2 linked regions of the Homo sapiens genome follow. The protein of the gene in region 1 interacts with the protein of each later gene in a pairwise test. Each region holds a gene or a part of one and is shown on either strand. Other genes may lie near its edges. The genes, in order: RBP5 and AGR2.

The links.
Region 2: the proteins of RBP5 (region 1) and AGR2 interact in binary tests that used the Homo sapiens proteins (3 or more experiments, as listed by UniProt).

What each region holds. Positions count from the first base shown.
Region 1 is NC_000012.12:7,125,208-7,133,990, reverse strand, and holds the start of RBP5 (retinol-binding protein 5), read left to right. Parts: upstream 1-5,101; 5' UTR 5,102-5,215; coding exon 5,216-5,288; intron 5,289-5,572; coding exon 5,573-5,751; intron 5,752-6,237; coding exon of another isoform or gene 6,238-6,294; exon of another isoform or gene 6,295-6,492; intron 6,493-8,783. Other genes in the region: CLSTN3 (calsyntenin-3), read right to left, coding at 223-418, 845-967, 3,279-3,411, 4,195-4,368.
Region 2 is NC_000007.14:16,801,560-16,810,470, forward strand, and holds the start of AGR2 (anterior gradient protein 2 homolog precursor), read right to left. Parts: upstream 3,441-8,911; 5' UTR 3,376-3,440; intron 245-3,375; 5' UTR 238-244; coding exon 99-237; intron 1-98. UniProt on the Homo sapiens protein: Required for MUC2 post-transcriptional synthesis and secretion. May play a role in the production of mucus by intestinal cells. Proto-oncogene that may play a role in cell migration, cell differentiation and cell growth. Promotes cell adhesion.

The sequences.
Region 1 (8,783 bases):
GCAAAGCCAAGATTAGATCCACTGAACTCTACTATACGTTTCTGTCACCTTGCCTGAAAGTCCCTAAATCCTAGGAACAGCAGGGGATGGGGCTCCCTAAGTCCTAGGAACAGCAGCGGGTGGGGGTGGATATTCGATGACCGCACGGACAGAGGATGGTGGGCTTGGGAGCAGGGAGGAGGACCCTGCAACACATGGGGCAGGAGACAAGGACTTCCTCACTTGTGGGACTTCTTGGTGTTGGCCCCGTCGGGGCCCTCGCCACAGTCATAGGCCTGGATGGTGAAGGTGTGTTCCTTCTGGGCCTCGCAGTCCACAGGCTCCTTGGCCCGGATCAGCCCCTCTCCTGTCGCCTTGTCAAGGATCACAGCCTCAAAGGGCACCCCAGACCCATGGAGCCGGAAGCCGCAGATCTCACCTGGCAAAGGGGAGAAGGGGAGGAGTGAGGCTGCTGTGTCTCCTTCCCCACCCTCAGTCTCCCCACCTGGGGTCCAGCTCCACCTCTCCTCCCAAAGCCCTGTCCCTTCTCCTGTAGGCACAAAAGCATTAATGATCAAACACGCAACTCTAAGCCCAGCTTCCCTGAGCAGCAACCTCCCAGAGCCTCCAGACCTGAGATCTGACAAAATCATGATGTGTTTAACCCTTGCCTGGCCATGTCCTTTTCTGGCATCCTTGACTCAATCTCCATTCTTCAGTGGAGACCATTCCCCTCCTTGAGCCCACTTTTATCTTCCCTTACTTTCTCATCACTCCCAGGACCTTCCCTCCCTCCCTTGCTCTTGGCCCTCCCACCCACTTTTCTCTGTCCTACCCTGCCTTGCCATCCCCCAATCCCAATTACCTGCATAGCGCAGCGGGGCATCCTTGTCCAAGGCAAAGAGTGGTGGATTCAGTAGGACCGTGTTGTCATTCTCCATGACGATGCCCTGGTACTCTGCCTCAATCCATGGCTTGTGCTTGTTGGCTGGCCCCACCCCAGGGAGAGGAGAGGAAGCACCTGTGAGCAGGGCCTCTACTCCCACAACAACCCTTGTTGACCCAGACAACTCACACCCCAGCACCATCACCTTTTCCACCCCCTATAGGAGCACCTTACAGGAGGCGGGTGGTTGAGGACAAGAAATCAGCTACTAAAGGAGTCAGAGGGTCTGCGGGAGGTCATAGCCTTCTCCTATAGCAGGGTAGACAGTTCCCATGGAAACAACCTGCCCTGGGGGTGAAGAGGAGGGGATCACTATCTCCATGGGAACCATGGTCAGGAAGTGGAGAATGTTCTTTAGCGATTTCACGTGCTAGAGAATGGAGACAGGGAACTTCAGGGAGCAGTGGTGGGCTGTGAGAAGGCCCTGGGAAAGGGAAGGGATAGATTAAGGGCAGAATTGAAACTAGAAAAAGATCTAGAAGTTTCCTGAGATCCTGATTGCTTATCCTCCTCCCAACTCATTTCAGTCCTGATCCCTTCACTCTGCACTTCTCCCAGCCAAGCCCCAACTTGAGGCCACTCTCCCAGAACACAGGATGGGGAGAAAGGAGAGAAGTGAAGATATATAGGACAGAGGGAGGGGGCAGAGAGGGGCAGGAATGGAGCAGAGGAATCAATGCTGAGCAACTGGACCCAGCAGAGCCGTCATCCTAAGGGATTATCGGGCTGGCCTAGAAACATGACAAATCCCGTCCCTGCTTCCCACCCCCACACCCAAGAGAACACATTCGAAACCGACACATTTCTATGTCCTCCACAAGACCATCAAACCACATTCCCTGAAACCCACTTTTTATACAGAACTCAATCCCAGTTCTTATCTACCCCATCCCTCTTCCCTTCAACCACCAGCCAATTCAGAATGGATGCGGGACTCATCAGACTCCAAATCTCCCCATCTTCTACCAGATTCAGCCTGGTGAGGGGCTGTGGGGAAGCATATTTCCTCCCCTTCCACATCACCCCCCACCCCAGCCTCCACGCTTGCTCTAATCCCATCATCATGCCAACACCCAGGCTCCCAAAGCACAATCATGAGGCAGAGGGAAACTGAGTCACCAAAAGGAACCTCATCCCCAGTATCTCACGGTGAGCAAGAAACCCTGATTTCCATTCTTTCCTCCAACCACACACCAGCAAGCCTTTGGCATGGGAAGGCTTTCTTACTGATGACCACCATAACCCCTTCCTGAATGCTGAGGAGAAAGCCACAAGATGGTGCACAGGAGGCGGTACAGGAAGTGGCAGGAGGCTAGGAGGCGAGGCTGAGGTCAGAGATGCAGGCAAGGAAGAGAGAGCGGTGGAAGGGCAGGGCTGGGCGCCCTCTGCACAGCTCCCCCTCCCACCCTGCTTGTCTTCCCAGGTCTCTGAGCCTCTGTCTCCTCTCCTCCTGGCCCCCTGCGGTCTCTGCGTTTGCTCCCTTTCACTCCTAGGCTCCCGGGCTCCTCCTTGACTCACTCTTTTCCTGATTTTCCTCATTCCTCCCTCTTTTTTCTGCCTCCACCTTTACCCTTTTCCATCCCCTCCTTACCCCCTCCCACGCCTCATCTCCGGTCTTCTCCTTCTCAGCTTTCCCTCTCATACTCATTTAGCGCCCCCCACACACCCACTTCTGCCCTTTCCTGCCAGTCTCCATCCGTTTCCACCTACCTGAGCCCTCTGCCCGCAAGCCCTCCCTCCCGTCCTCCCTCTCCGTCTGTCCGACAGCCCCGCCCAGCTGAATGTATCCGCTGTCTGCCAGAGAGGGCAGCTCTGGTAACCCACAGCCCAGCTGATGCAGGCAAAAGGGTCTGAATGCAGAGGCACACGCAAAAAACATACGTGCTCCGAATTGCTGAACTGCAGCAAATACTTTCTCCCCAGGATGGGATGGAGGCGAAGCAGATGGATCTGCCACACACCCTTAGCATGCGCCAGTGAAAGGGAGAGCCGCGGGGAGAGGCCTATCACCGGCTCGGGGGCAGTCCTTCCCAGACCCGAGGTAGCCACCAGCGTGTAGAAATTAGGGGAAGGGGAGAATAGAGACCCCAGGACGGGAATGGAGACCAAATGGGAGCAAGATGACCAGCAAGAGAAACGCATGGGTAGAGATGGACCAGAAAGGAAGATGTAGCTGGGGGAAGAGAAAGAGAGGAGACGGAGCAGGTCTGAGAACGGATGGGAAGGAGGGTGATCAGAAGAGGGCCAGACACCTGTCAGGTGCCAGGGAGCCTCGACACCTCCTTCCCACCCCCACCCCGCACGGCGCTGCCCGACGCCCCTCTTTCGGTACCCCCACCCCCACCTCACTCACCTTTGTTACAGGAGCAGGACGCGAGCAGAGAGGCCAGCAGAAGGGGCAGCAGCAGGAGGGTCATGGTGCGGCGTGGGGCAGGGCAGGGCCAGGCGTTTGCCTCCCCTGGGAGCCTCCAGCCTGCGGATTCCACCTTGCGGGAGGGATACAGGGGGTCTCCAAGGAGCGGGGTACAGCAGGGCAGGGACGGAAAGGAGCCTGCCGCCCACACTAGTCCATAAAGCGGGCCTGGGCAGATCCCAATCTGGGTAGCTGAGGCGGTGGACTTGCAGCGGCTTCCCGTTTCCCCCAGCCCAGCGTCCTCACTCTCTCACTCCCACCCCAACCCCGCTACTGCAGGATGACGTCAGCACAGCCGGGCAACGATTGATGGGGCCGCCGGCCAATCAGGTGACTGGGAGGGGGGGGGACCAGGTGCTGCAGCGGGGGAGGGAGCCAATGAGACTGGGGCGTCGGGGCTGGAGAGTTTCAAGGCTCCTTCCCCTGGCTGCAATTTTGGGGGAGCCGAGGAACTGCGGGGGCTGGGGAGGAAGCTGGAGAGCCACGGAGGGGGTGGGAAAGAAGAGGGACGTGGGGAGAAAGAAGCCAGAAGCCAGGGGGTGGGGAAGAGAGACGTCAGCGGGACCTGAGGGCGGCCAGGAGGGGTGGCACCGCGTCACCCCGCCCCCCAACTCTGCCATAACCTGTTTCCACAGCCCCTTCCATCCACAGATCCGTGCTGCGTGCCCTCTGGGAAGGGTGAAGTAAAACCCTCAGTCTGAGCCTGAGAAATCCTGGCATTTGTAGCCCAGGGCTGCGAGGAAGCCACAGGGCGGTCCGCAGGGCGGTATCGAGGCTCTGGGACCCAAGGAGGGGCAGGACGTCGTGCACCCCTCGCGCACGCACCTGTCGGGACCGGCCGCCTCCTCCTGCCTACCTGTCCTGCCTCCTTCGCCCCGAATTTCACCTTAAACCATGATGAACCAAGCCCAGTGGATTCTGAAGCCCGGGACGATGGCAGGTTCGAGAGAGAATTGGGCAGCTGGGGGCGGGGCACAATATTATTTAGGCGCCTCCACCCCACCTTCACAGAAATACATCTGGAAAGCATGGGCTGTCCTAGGGCTGGGGACTGGGGGTTACGGTCTCATCGATGACTCAGAGGGAGAGAAAACCCCCTGGGTCCCAAGCCAAAAAGAATAAAATTCTCCAGAATAGCCAACAAACTCCTCTCAGGCTGTCTGTTCCGGACTTTGAACTCAGCACCCCTCGGGCTCCACCTCCCTCCTAATGGCTCTTTAGGACCAAGAGTCTGGAATGCCACTTTGGGGTCCCAGTTGAGCACACTACCTGAGGGAGCTCTGAGAGCCAGGCCTACAGGGTGCTCTTCATGGTGGCAGCTGGCCATCCTCACCCCCTCCCCTCACATCTTCCAACATCACTCAGTCCCAGGATCTCAGGATATTGTTGGAACTCATCTCCACCTCACACAGCCAGACCAGCCTCAGGTGTCTCCCAGGAAAGACTGCCCCTCAGGCCCTGGGACGGTTCCCAAGCCTGCCAGAAATGAGGTGGAGGCCAACACTGACCTTTGGATGGCTGAGTTTTGGATGACTGACAGCCCCAGATCCTGCTCCAGGTTCCTTCCTCAGGAAGGATCCTGCTCCAGGTTCCTTCCTCAGGAAAAGCCAAGGTCAGGCGCAACTTTGCCAAATCCCTGCCCCTCCTTCAGGCTGGAGACACCACCCCCAAACTCACCATGCGGGGAGGGAAGAAGTCTGGTAGGGACTCTTATTGCAACAGGGCCCCAGCCTTATAAAAAGCCCTGGTAACCCGGCCATTACACATCCTGTCTCTGTGTGTGGAGCTGGCTGGAATCTCTCAGCCTCACCTGCCAGACAACACCCCCTCCTTCCTCACCCTGTCTCCTGCATTCTCCTGAAACCTTCATCCACACAATGCCTCCCAACCTCACTGGCTACTACCGCTTTGTCTCGCAGAAGAACATGGAGGACTACCTGCAAGCCCTAAGTAATGGCCTCGCCCTCCCAGACCCCTGTCACTCCCTTTCTCCCCTCTTCCTTCCTGCTTCTTGGTCCCATGGAGAAGAGGGAATGCCCGGGGTTGGACACTGTGGAAAGGCTCAGGCGGCTGGCACCAGACCTGGGATCCATTTCTAACCAGGCATTGGTAGGAGGGGGTGAATCCACAGTCCCAGACCCAAAGAAGGGAAACTCACAGCCCTGAGGGGCTGCTGCAGGCAGAGGAGCTCCTGGCTGGCTAGCAGCACCCCTACTAACAGGCAGCCCCCACAGACATCAGCTTGGCTGTGCGGAAGATCGCGCTGCTGCTGAAGCCGGACAAGGAGATCGAACACCAGGGCAACCACATGACGGTGAGGACGCTCAGCACCTTCCGAAACTACACTGTGCAGTTTGATGTGGGAGTGGAGTTTGAGGAGGACCTCAGGAGCGTGGACGGACGAAAATGCCAGGTACATTTCCCCTGGCTGGGCGGTGGCCGGAAGGAGGCATCACAGGAGACTCCTAACAACATGGGGCAAAACAAAGTGACCTTCCCCAGCCAGAGCAGCGGGGAGGAGGGGAATGGTCACCACAGCAGGGAATGCAGTCCCCAGGATACCAGTCTCCAGAACTAACAGGTCCTGGTGCTCCCTGTCTCTCTCCCACTTCTTCCCTGCCCCCTCTTATCACCAGCCCAAAGGGCAAAGAACAGGCCAACCCAGACCGAAGAGCAAACATTTGCCCACCCTCCAGCCTGTGACACTGTTGGTCACCCAGAGTCCCTTTTACTTTAGCATCAATAACTTCACTCTCCTGCATTTCTTTCTACTTCTTACATATTCCTTCTTAGCCTCCTTTGCAGATCCTAGTCCTCCTATTAATCCTTTAAACTGGAGTTTTCTCCGCAGAGTTTTGTTCTTAATGTCTTCTCCCTTTTGTCTGCCCACTATCCATAGGCTAAATCATCTACACCCATGCCTTCTGCTTCCATCTATAGGCTGCCCTTGGCATGAATTCTCCAGCCAGAGCCATCTCCTGAGCTCCAGGGCAATGTTTTCAACTGCCTACAAAATACAGTTGGCCCTCCATATTCATGGGTTCTGCATCCACAGCTTCAGCAAACTGCAAATGGAAAAATATTTGGGAAAAATAAAAATAAAAAATAACAATACAAAATGATACAAATAAAAAACAATACAGTATAGCAACTATTTACAGAGCATGTACATTGCATTAGGTATTATAAGTAATCTAGAGATGATTTAAAGCATATGGGAAAAGGCTGGGCGTGGTGGCTCACACCCATAATCCCAAGACTTTGGGAGGCTGAGGCAGGCAGATCACTTGAGGCCAGGAGTTCAAGACCAGCCTGGCCAACATGGTGAAACCTCATCTCTACTAAAAATACATAAATTAGGCCAGGTGCAGTGGCTCACACCTGTAATCCCAGTACTTTGGGAGGCCAAGGCGGGCGGATCACCTGAGGTCAAGAGTTCGAGACCAGCCTGACCAACATGGAGAAACCCCATCTCTACTAAAAATACAAAAAATTAGGCAGGCATGGTGGCGCATGCCTGTAATCCCAGCTACTCAGGAGGCTGAGGCAGAAGAATCACTTGAACCTGGGAGGCAGAGGTTGCAGTGAGCCAAGATCGCACCACTGCACTCCAGCCTGGGCAACAAGAGCGAAATTCTATCTCAAAAAAAAAAAAAAAAAAAAATACAAAAGTACAAAAATTAGCCGGGCATGGTGGCGCATGCCTGTAATCCCAGCTACTTGGGAGGCTGAGGCAGGAGAATTACTTGAACCCGGGAGCCAGAGGTTGCAGTGAGCCAAGATCATGCCATTGCATTCTAGTCTGGGTGACAGAGCAAGACTCTGTATCAAAATGATAATAATAAAGTACACAGGGGGATGTATGTAGTTTCTCTACAGATACTAAGCCATTTTATTCAGCAGATTTAGTGAGGTGGGGGTCCTGGAACCAATTTCCATTTGAATGCCAAGGTCAAATTCAAATTCACTGTCTTCCTATCCAAACCTACCCCACTTTTATATCTACTCTCTCCACTAATGGCAATAACCAGCCAGGCCAGAGACCTGGGAGTCATGGTCAATATCTCTTGTTTCCTTACCTCTAGGCTCCCAGCACACACACACACACACACACACACACACACACACACACACACACACACCACCACCACCACCACCACCACATCTAATCGGCCAAGAAATCTTTGTAGCTTTTCTGCATTACCCAGTATAGCAGCTGCTAACTTCAGATGGCCGTTGAATACTTGAAATATAACTAGTCCAAATCTAGATGCTGTAAGTGGACTTTCAGACAATGCCAAATAAAAAGAAGCATTTCGGAAATGTTTATATTGGCTGCATGCCGAAATAATAATATTTTGAATATTTTTGGTTAACTAAAATATATTATTTAAATTAATTTCCCCTATTTCTCTTTACTTTTCTAATATGGCTCCTGACCCATTTTATTTCTGTTGAGCATCACTCTTCTAAATGGCTCTCCTGTGTTCCCTCCTAACCTTTCTCTATCACCACCCTAATTCAGGCCTTCATTTCCTGGTGCCTGAAATTGCTTTTTTGTGTTTTTGTGTTTTTTTTTTTTTGGTAGAGGTGGGGTCTCACTGTGTTGCCCAGGCTGGTCTCAAACTCTTGACTTCAAGTGATTCTCCCGCCTCAGCCTCCCAAATGCTGAGATTACGGGCCTAAGCCACTGCACCCAGCTGGTTCTCACGCTTAACCCTCCTCTAATCTGCATGCTGTAGCCACAGGGTCTACTTAAAACATAAATGTGATCATGTCACTCTCTGACTTACACCCTTTCAGTGATGATCTATTACATTACATCATCTGTTACACTTAACTCAGCATACAAGGGTCTCTGTGAATCAACTCTTCAATTGCCTCCACCACATATACTCTAGGTTAGAGCCCTTCAGAACTAATTGCCTTTCTCTTTTACCGCTATTTCTAGCTGTTTCTTTCCTTGCTAGAAATTTCCCATTCTCTCCAATCTAATTAACTCCCAACTTCCTTAAAGATTTCACTCTGCCCGCCCCACTGCCATCCCTCACTCTTGCCTGGTGTCACAGTTACCTATTTACTGATCCTCTATCTCTTCAAGACTCTGAGCTCCTTGTTTGGGGCCTATCCTAAAGGAGAACTCAATAAAGGTTGATTGGAATGCTCAGGCCCAGAGGGGCTGACCCTTTATTTCTAAGGATACTTCAGCTGTTCTTGAAACCGAGAAAGAGGAGAAATGAGATTACCTGGTAGGATTCCCAACCAATCTCTCTTTTTTCTCAAAAGTCCCTCTAGGTCAGCCAGAAGTATCCAGAGGAAAAAGTCTCCATTCTTCATAAATGCCCTCCCCAATTTCACCTCTACTTATCCTGCTACCACCCCTGCTCTCCCCTAAAGGTCACTGTAGACAACTTTGGGCCCCCCTCGGTGACCTTTAGGAGTGGA
Region 2 (8,911 bases), on another chromosome or scaffold:
AACCTGGCACCAGGTTAGAACCAGGTTTAAGCACCAAGAGAGAGGAAATCTTTTCCAATTAAGTAGCAGTTGGAAGCCAACAAGAAGCTGACTCCTACCTCTGGAGAGGGTCTGGGGCAGTTTGGGTCGAGAGTCCTTTGTGTCCTTTTTGGCTCCAGGTTTGACTGTGGTATCTCTGGCCAGAGTGTAGGAGAGGGCCACAAGGAGCAAGAATGCTGACACTGGAATTTTCTCCATGGCAACTCTAGTATGGAAAACCAACCAAAATCAGTAAACAAAATTGAACTAGCAGTCTTCAGGGTCTGCAGGTTGCCCCACAACGGTGGAATATACCAGAAACTGAGGCTCTGCTGAGACTGGACATACGAGATTGGCGTAAATAGCTCTGTTCCATGGGATTTTCCTAAGAATACAGGTGGTCTTTGACTTACAATTGAGTAATGTTCCAATAAACCCATTGTAAACTGAAAATATTGCAAGTCAAAATGCATCCAGAGTAGTCTCTCCTTTCCCAGGGTTTTACTTTCTGCGGTTTCAGCTAACCACGGTCAACCGCGTCCAAAATAAGTGAGCACAGTGCAATAAGATATTTTGAGAGAGAGACCAAATTCACCTAACTTTTATTATAAGATACTGTTGTAATTGTTCTGTTTTATTATTAGCTCTTATTAATCTCTTATTGTGCTTAATTTATAATTTCAACTTTATCATAGATATGTATGCATAGGAAAAAACATAGCATATGTAGTGTTTGGTACTAATGTGCGGTTTCAGGCATCCACTGAGGGTCATGGACCATAACCCCCACAGATAATGGGGGAACTACCGTAATACACCTAACCCACTGAACACCACAGCTGAACCTACCGTAAATGTGCTCAGAACACTCACATTAGCCTAAAGTTGGGAAAAGCCATCCAACACAAAGCCCATTTTATAGTAAAGTGTTAAATATCTCAAGTAATTTTTATGAATACTCTATTGGAAGTAAAAACCAGAATGGTTATATGGATACTTGAAATACAGTTTCTACTGAATGTGTATTGCTTTTGCACCATCATAAAGTCAAAAAATTAAGTCAAACTTCTGTAAGTTGGGACTGTTTGTATATAGTATGGATAGCTGTCTATTGATCCACATAGATAAAGACAAAAAGATATAGATCTCTATAGATATAGAGTTATCTATATAGATATATATATCTATATAGAAATAGATAAATAGAGATATATTTTGAGAAAATAGATATACATACTCTAGTAGCTAAGAAAATTTACATTTACTTTTTTTGGAGACAAGGGCTCACTGTGTTGCCCAGGCTGGAGTACAGTGGCACAATCGTGGCTCACTGCAACCTCCACCTCCTGGGTTCAAGTGATCCTCCCTCCTCAGCCTCCCAAGGAGCTGGGGCTACAGGCACGTGCCAGCATACTTGGCTATGCTTTTGTATTTTTTAGTAGAGATGGAGTTTTGTCATGCTGCCCAGGCTGGTCTCAAACTCCTGACCTCAAGTGATCCTCCTGCCTTGGCCTCCGAAAGTGCTGGGATTACAGGAGTGAGCCACCACGCCTAGCTGATATCTTAGTTAAATTACTTTTTCTTTCTGGTATGCCACAGTTGATTCCCAGGAAAAACTAAAGCCTATGAAAAGGAAAGTACATGGCAAGATAAGTTTTGTGAGTGAGGAGGGAGGGAGGGAGCAAAGTGAGTTGCTCTAGCAAGTCACTAAGGTTGTCCACGGGGCCGTAACATGGAAGGCTGGAGATTTGGGATTCTGATAAAACCAAACACTAAAAGTGCTAAAAAGGAAATATGAAACCCCGGCACCTAACTCTAGTATTGGTGAATGGTTTTGAATGAAGTCAAATAAACTCTGCAAGGAATTACTATTGTTAAGCAGGAAGTTTTTCATAATCTAATATCTTGAGTGGAAACCTTTGCTAAGCATTAGCTGATTTTTTTTTAAGTGTTGCTAAGCTACCAGATCGAAATGATGTTTTGTATTTAACTGACCAATGATTAACTAATCCATAGTATGTAAGCACAAAATGTCTTACTCAGAAAAGATGTAAGCAAAAATCAGGGATATACTTTGTTCATTTTCTATACCTACAAAGATGTGGAAATGCCAATAACTTTTGTCTTCTAGAGTTTTGCAAAAACAACCTAAGTGTTCACTGTAAGTCAACAATTCTCAGCCCTCTTTGTATAAAGACTTCTTTGTAATGTTAAAAAAATCAAGAACTTTTACATGAGAATAATTATACATTTGGAATACTGGCTGGTTCAGAAACATATGGCAAATAATTTCTTTGAATCTATCAACAAACATTTGATTTTATCTTTTATTTATAACAGCATCTATATATATTCTAAAAAATAGTAAATTGATGGTAAGGCATTTTTATTTACTTAGCCCATTTACAGTTCTTGTTTTCCAAGTAGCTATTAGGACCTTGCAGTATCTCCAAAGATCACAGGTTGGAACTATTGATATATTGCTTGTGTTTTACGGCAGGATGACTCAAGGAAGGCTAACATAACTCCTGCTGTACAAACATCCTGCTGTGGGGTGACTTTCTGAGATTCACTCCACTGAGTTTTCGTAATGTGAATAGATTCTGCTCTGCAAATTTCCTGCATAAACCACCTCAAAACACAATTCCATGGAAAATATTGATAATTTGGAGACACACACAGACATAGGTACACACACACACACACACACACACACACACATTATGTGAAGCCAGCACTTTTTACTCATCACCGTATCCCTGTCTTCTTGTCTTTAGCAAATAATGAACTTGCAAGACATTTTAGTGTCCCTATTTGTAGATGCTTCAGGAAAGCAACCAGCTCTCTCCTCTAATAGCCTATCCCATGAATTTAAAGATTGCAGAGGCAACAAGAATGTCTTTGCAGCAAAAAGAGAAAGAAAACTGTTTTCTGATTTGCAATAATATATTCCAAGCGGGCAATCCGAGCTGAGGTGTCATAGTGGAGAAGCCTATGGGGCTTTGCTTTAGCCCGTGGGAAAGAAAGCTTTAGATGGTGACTGAGACGAAAATCCCTGGACCCTGTCCCAGGCTTGAAAAATCCTAGGATTCACCTACTCTTGGAAATTTTGTTTCGCAAAAGAGAAAGCATTTCTCTGAACTAACTCGGGAACGTCACACTGTGCCAGCTCTAGCCAAAGAAAGGCCCCAGTAAGACTTTTGTGGAAATTCCATGATTTCCCTTCCGTATCCTACTTCATTGCCTTTGGAAACTTGCAGTTCTCTGTTGCTTGATTGCCTACAACTTTATATAGCAATCAGAGGCCCGAATTCACTCCAGCAAGTACCCTTCTAAAGCTGCTGTCAGGAGCCTTACCTGGATTTCCTCACCCACCTGCCTTGTGTGAGTCGGCGGCTAGGATGCGGTCCAAGCTTCTGAGTGTGCCAGCACAGCTGAGTCTCTATTTATGCACCAGGGCATACCTCAATCCCACCCACTAGTGCTGCATTTACTTGTTGCTAACTCAGAAACGAACCTTCCTTTCCCCAAGTGATTATCTTCCCTGGGTTAAAGAGTTCCTTGTTTTTAAAAATAACATTGCAAAAGTATGCTTTTCAGTATGCATGTTTTTAACTATTTGTGAAACGTATTGTTAAGAGGTTTTGAAACGATGGGCAGAGTGCCAAATCCAGGTAGACTTTGAATGAAGACATTTGATTTGCCTGAAGGCTGATTTGTCTTTACATGATTGGACAGAGTTTGTAGTTTGTAGATTTTTTTTCTGCTCCGTGGGCAGATTGCCTTTATTTACTTGAAGACACACAAGAGATGATTCACAATTCTGATCCTCGCAGTCATATAACCTGCCATACTCCATTATGATAAAAATTATTTTCTACAATACTTCCCTGCTCCTGTCAAAACAATGCACCCTAACTTCTACAGGTATGAAAAAAAATACAAATCAAGTAACCCACGTAATTTTTCAAAACTGAGGAAGTATTGGCAAAAAAAAAAAAAAAAAACAGCCTAATATCGTGAGCTTGTAATAAATGCCTTGCCATTGAATGTATGCAGCAACTTCCCTCCACAGAGTTCAAAGGTATTTCACAGATAATCTCTTATTTAAAGGCAAACTTTCCTGCCACGCAAGCAGGAAGCCATTTACTCCATTTTCTCAGACCTAAAAACTAAGGTCTGCAACCAAGTTTTTTTTCCCCTCAAGACCATTTAATTACTCCCTGAAGATTTTAAAACTGGAATTTAAATTTTCTGTCAGAAAATTTTAATCCTGTATTTTGTTCATGAAGTTGTGTGCAGTCTTTAAAAGCTCAGAATGAAGAAAATGTTAACAACAGAAAGTTAATGAATGGGATGCAAGCCCTATATAAATGACTTTTTAAAATGAGTTAAGGTCATAATATTTCAAAAACATTTGCAAGTATGTATATTTTTCCAATAAATCCTTGAATTCTGTGGGCAAAATCGTGATTCTCCAAATACTGAATTTCCTTTCAATTCTAATGAATTTATAGAAGTAATTTCTTCAGGAGTTTGAAAACGATGATTTGAGCAAAATTCTTAAAACTAGCAGGCCCTTAGATAGACCCTTGTAATATTCAATTCCAGTCTTTCATTTTACAGATGAATAAATGAAGATGGCAAAAAATTCATAACTTTTTGAAGGTCTCACAACTAGTTTAGGGCAGAGTTGGGACCAAAGTCCTTCAGTCCCTTATCCACTGAAAGTAACAAGTGGATGGGATTTGGAGTCACGAGATTCCCATCTGAATCCTGCATCCTGGTGCTTGCTCATAGGATGATCTGAGATCTCATTTAACATCCCCAAAACTTCAGTTTCTCCATCTATAATATGGGGATAATATTAACATACGGGACCATTTTGAATATTAAATGACTTTTCCCTGTATTGCCACATGGTTTTTCCCTCTGTACCTGTCTGTGTCATTTTTTTCCTTTTCTTATAAGGACACCAGTCATATTGTATTTGGGTCCTGCCTAATGACCTACTTTAACTTAATTACCTCTGTAAAGATCCTATTCTGAAGTCCTGGGGATTAAGACTTCAACATATGAATTTTTGGGGGGGACACAATTCAGCCCATAACATTTGATAAAAGTAGCTAATGCAGGCTGGCTTAAGACCTAGTTGTTGGGTTGATCAGTGCAGCAAACCACCATGGCACACGTTTACTGATGGAACAAACCTGCACATCCTACACACATACTCCGGAACTTAAAAAAAAAAGTCTTTGATTTGTTACAGTTAATTATAGTGATATAATTATTCTATACTCATGTGCCTAATCTCATGTCGGGAAAAACCCAGAGTTTGTCATAGTGGCTGACGGATGGCAAGGAGGAGGTAATTATTAGCAGATATCCTACACATGCTATTGAGGCTGTGGAATCTTTGGCATATCTGTCTTGGTGTGAGGTAACTAGGGTTCTGTAGATGGTACATATAGTATGCTTTGAGACAAGCAAAGGAGGGGTTTTTGTTTTATGCTATTAAACTTCATCACTTTTAACAGTGATGCCATGTGATCAGTCCTTCAGGTTTGCCTGATACTGTAAAAATATGTCGCTATCAGGTAGATATTTTGGATAATACCTGAGTAGGACTTCCTGAAGTAGGATTTGATAATTTGATATACCGGTCTAATATTATAGTAAGTAAAACTAAGCTTGGTACCAGGGATCCTATAACAATGGTTGTAATTAAGTGGATATTATACCTTTGTGTTTTAAATGTTTATTACATTATAATTTTAGAGGCATTTATTCAAGCATATTTTATTTTATATTTTTAAATTCAACTTTTAAATTTAGGGGGTACATGTGCAGGTTTGTTACATGGGTATATTGCGTGATGCTAAGGTTTGGGGTACGATTGATCCCATCACCCAGGTAGTGAGCATAGCGCCCAATAGGTAGTTTTTCAGCCCTTTCTCCCTTCTTTTCCTCTACCCTTTTGGGGTCCACAGTGTCTATGGGTCCCATCTTTGTGCCCATGTGTACCTAATGTTTAGCTACTACTAAGTGAGAACATGTGGTGTTTGGTTTTCCATTTCTGCATTAATTTGATTAGGATAATGACCTCCAGCTGCATCCATATTCAAGCATATTTTAAAGTGGATTATATCCTATTTTTGAGTTAAAACAGGAGACTTATAACTGGCAATTATTGTGTAATCTAGCATGCATGAGTAGCTAACTCTTGTGTTTCATTTACTCATTCATTTATTTTCTTCACCAAGTATTCATCAACTCTGTTTATGTAGCAAATATTGTGCCAGGCATTAAATATATAAAAATGAAAAAATGATGGTCAGTTATTGAGGTAGCCAGACACACACATAGATAATTGCAATTCGGAGTGATGGGCCATGCTATGGGGAAAACATGTAGCAGTTTACAACACTGTTTCTACTCTAAGGTTACTTACGATCTGATTGAAGAATTAAGATGGAACAACACTAAAAATTAGCCATTCACATGAGAATGGCACGCAACAAGAAACAAGTAAGTGGGATAGACGTCAGGTGTGATTATTTTTCAGAGAGAGTAGAGATTGCTACCTACTAGAGTGCTCAACTTGACGGCAGAAAGCAAGATTTCCAAATAGAGACGGTGATATAGAATTTGCAAAATATATTTGTGGGATATTTAAGGACGAGCCTAGCTGAAGTGAGAGACATCTGGGTAGCTCATAGACAATAGGGTTGGAGGGGTGTTTTGGGGCTATTTGCCTGGGCCTTTAATGCCATTCTAAGTTTAGACTTTACCCTCAAGAGGAAGCATGTGAGGGTTAAGAGGGCAAGCTGTAGATTCAGATAGGTTCGAGTTTGAATCAAGTTTCCTGACTGTTACATACTCTACTAATCCAGGCAACTTACTTAACTTCTCTGTGCTTTAGTTGTCTCACTTGTAGGTCTTCCTATCCCTACTTTTTTACTATATAGGATCTGTGGAAGATTACATAAGATAATAGACATAAAGTGCTTAGAATGGTACATAACACATAGTAAGCACTCAAAAATATTAGTTAGTAATACAGAATGTATTACTTCTCTGTATTATGATCATTTAGGTCTCAGTCTATGACAGCAGAATCTTTGTTGGATTACCCTTTGATTATAGCCTATCACAAGTCTTAAACTTTTCACATATATTCATTGGAAATATTCATTTGTCATTATAACAATCTCACCAGACTTCATTATTTTCTTTTAAAAAAGTAAAAAGGCTCAGGTGAGTGGACATAATTAGCGCAAAGCCACAAAATTGATGAACAGAGAGAAGATCTAAAATTTTCCATAGTTGGTGATAATTAATCCAGTATTTCTTTCAGTCCATCAGGCTGCCTTCTGATGTCAGGAAATAATGAGATAAGCCTGTAGATGCATAGAATTCCACATTACTGAATTATTATGAGCCTTATGCAGAGGGAAGTGCAAATGACTTCTTGTACTCAAAGGGTTTGCCTCAGAGAAGACTTGTCAAAAACATATCTAACTGCTGACCAAATAGCTGAATAAATTCTCCCTAACTCTAGCTTAGAGAAATGGACACATAAAAATTTGTGTTTTGACAGAGGAAAACTTGGTTACCATTTGAATTTATTTTAATTTCTGAATTGGGCTTTTGTGCACAGAATGGTTTAGAGTTTCTGGAGTTTTAATTGATATCCAGTAATGAAATTGTTAAAAATAGTTTAAACTGTACTTATATATCTAATTCTCTTAAACTTTCTAAATGCCCAACAGAGCAGATTTGCAAACATAATTAGCAAAACCTTTCTTTGAGTAAGCTTATCAGCTTTACTCTTCTTTGTATTCTTTCCTGAGACTAGTGATGGAGGAGCAGATTTACTGCTTGGGTGGATGAAGGTTCCTGGGTCTAAAGTTTGGGACCATGATATGTGTCAAAGGCTGAGAACCAGTCATTGATATGTTAAACTTAATGTCATACAATTAGATGTGTTTCTTGCGGGAAAGTATAGAGCAAAAGGACCAGCATACAACTTTGGTAATGATTGTCCATTTAGGAGTGAGGAAAAGAAATACTTGCAGAGCACAGAAAGTATAAAGTGTGAGGACAGGCAGGATAGTGTCATAGCCCTGGATCCAAGTCCAGTAGGAGCTACAAATCTCAAGGCAACAACTGGTGCCAAATGCGGCGAGACTTGTAACTAGACACTAGGAGAATACACTGATTGTATAAAAATCAGTGGCTTTAAACGAAAATTCATGAAGGGTTCTTGGGTTGAAATAATGAAAAGCTAAGTGTTCTGGTGCAGTAGTGTATTACCTTTTGGGGTCATGAATGAGGTGATTATACTTCTCAGTTTGCCCAGGAGAGCCTCAGTTTAAGCCTGTTGCTGGGTATAATAATTGAGAATGTCTTCTTTCATTCTCAAAAGTACCATGATTTGGACAATAAGTTACATGATCTGGATGATGAAATCTATTGAATTTATCTGCAGGTAAGATACACATATATAGGCATATGCAAAATTTTACAGTTACTTCAGAGGGTTCACTTATATACTGAACCCAATCCTAGGATCTCTTTGAGGGATTTATAAACCCTCAAACGTTTGCTCTTGTGTTCAAGTTTCTATGCTTAGCCATTCTCAAGGAGCCCACAGCTTGAGATTTGGCATGTAACTCTCCACACTTGTTTTACAGCATAATCTAATCTTTCTTCCTGGTGAGCAGAAATTTTATACCCTGTACTAAGCTGGAAGGAATCCTAGTCTCACAGCCATTCAAATCCCTTGTTTGCTCTGAATAAAGTCCCACAGCCTAAAATTCTTTTACATCATGGTGGAGGTGTGCTTTGTAGAGGAGGAGGAATAAAAAGTAATTTAAAATGTAATAACACC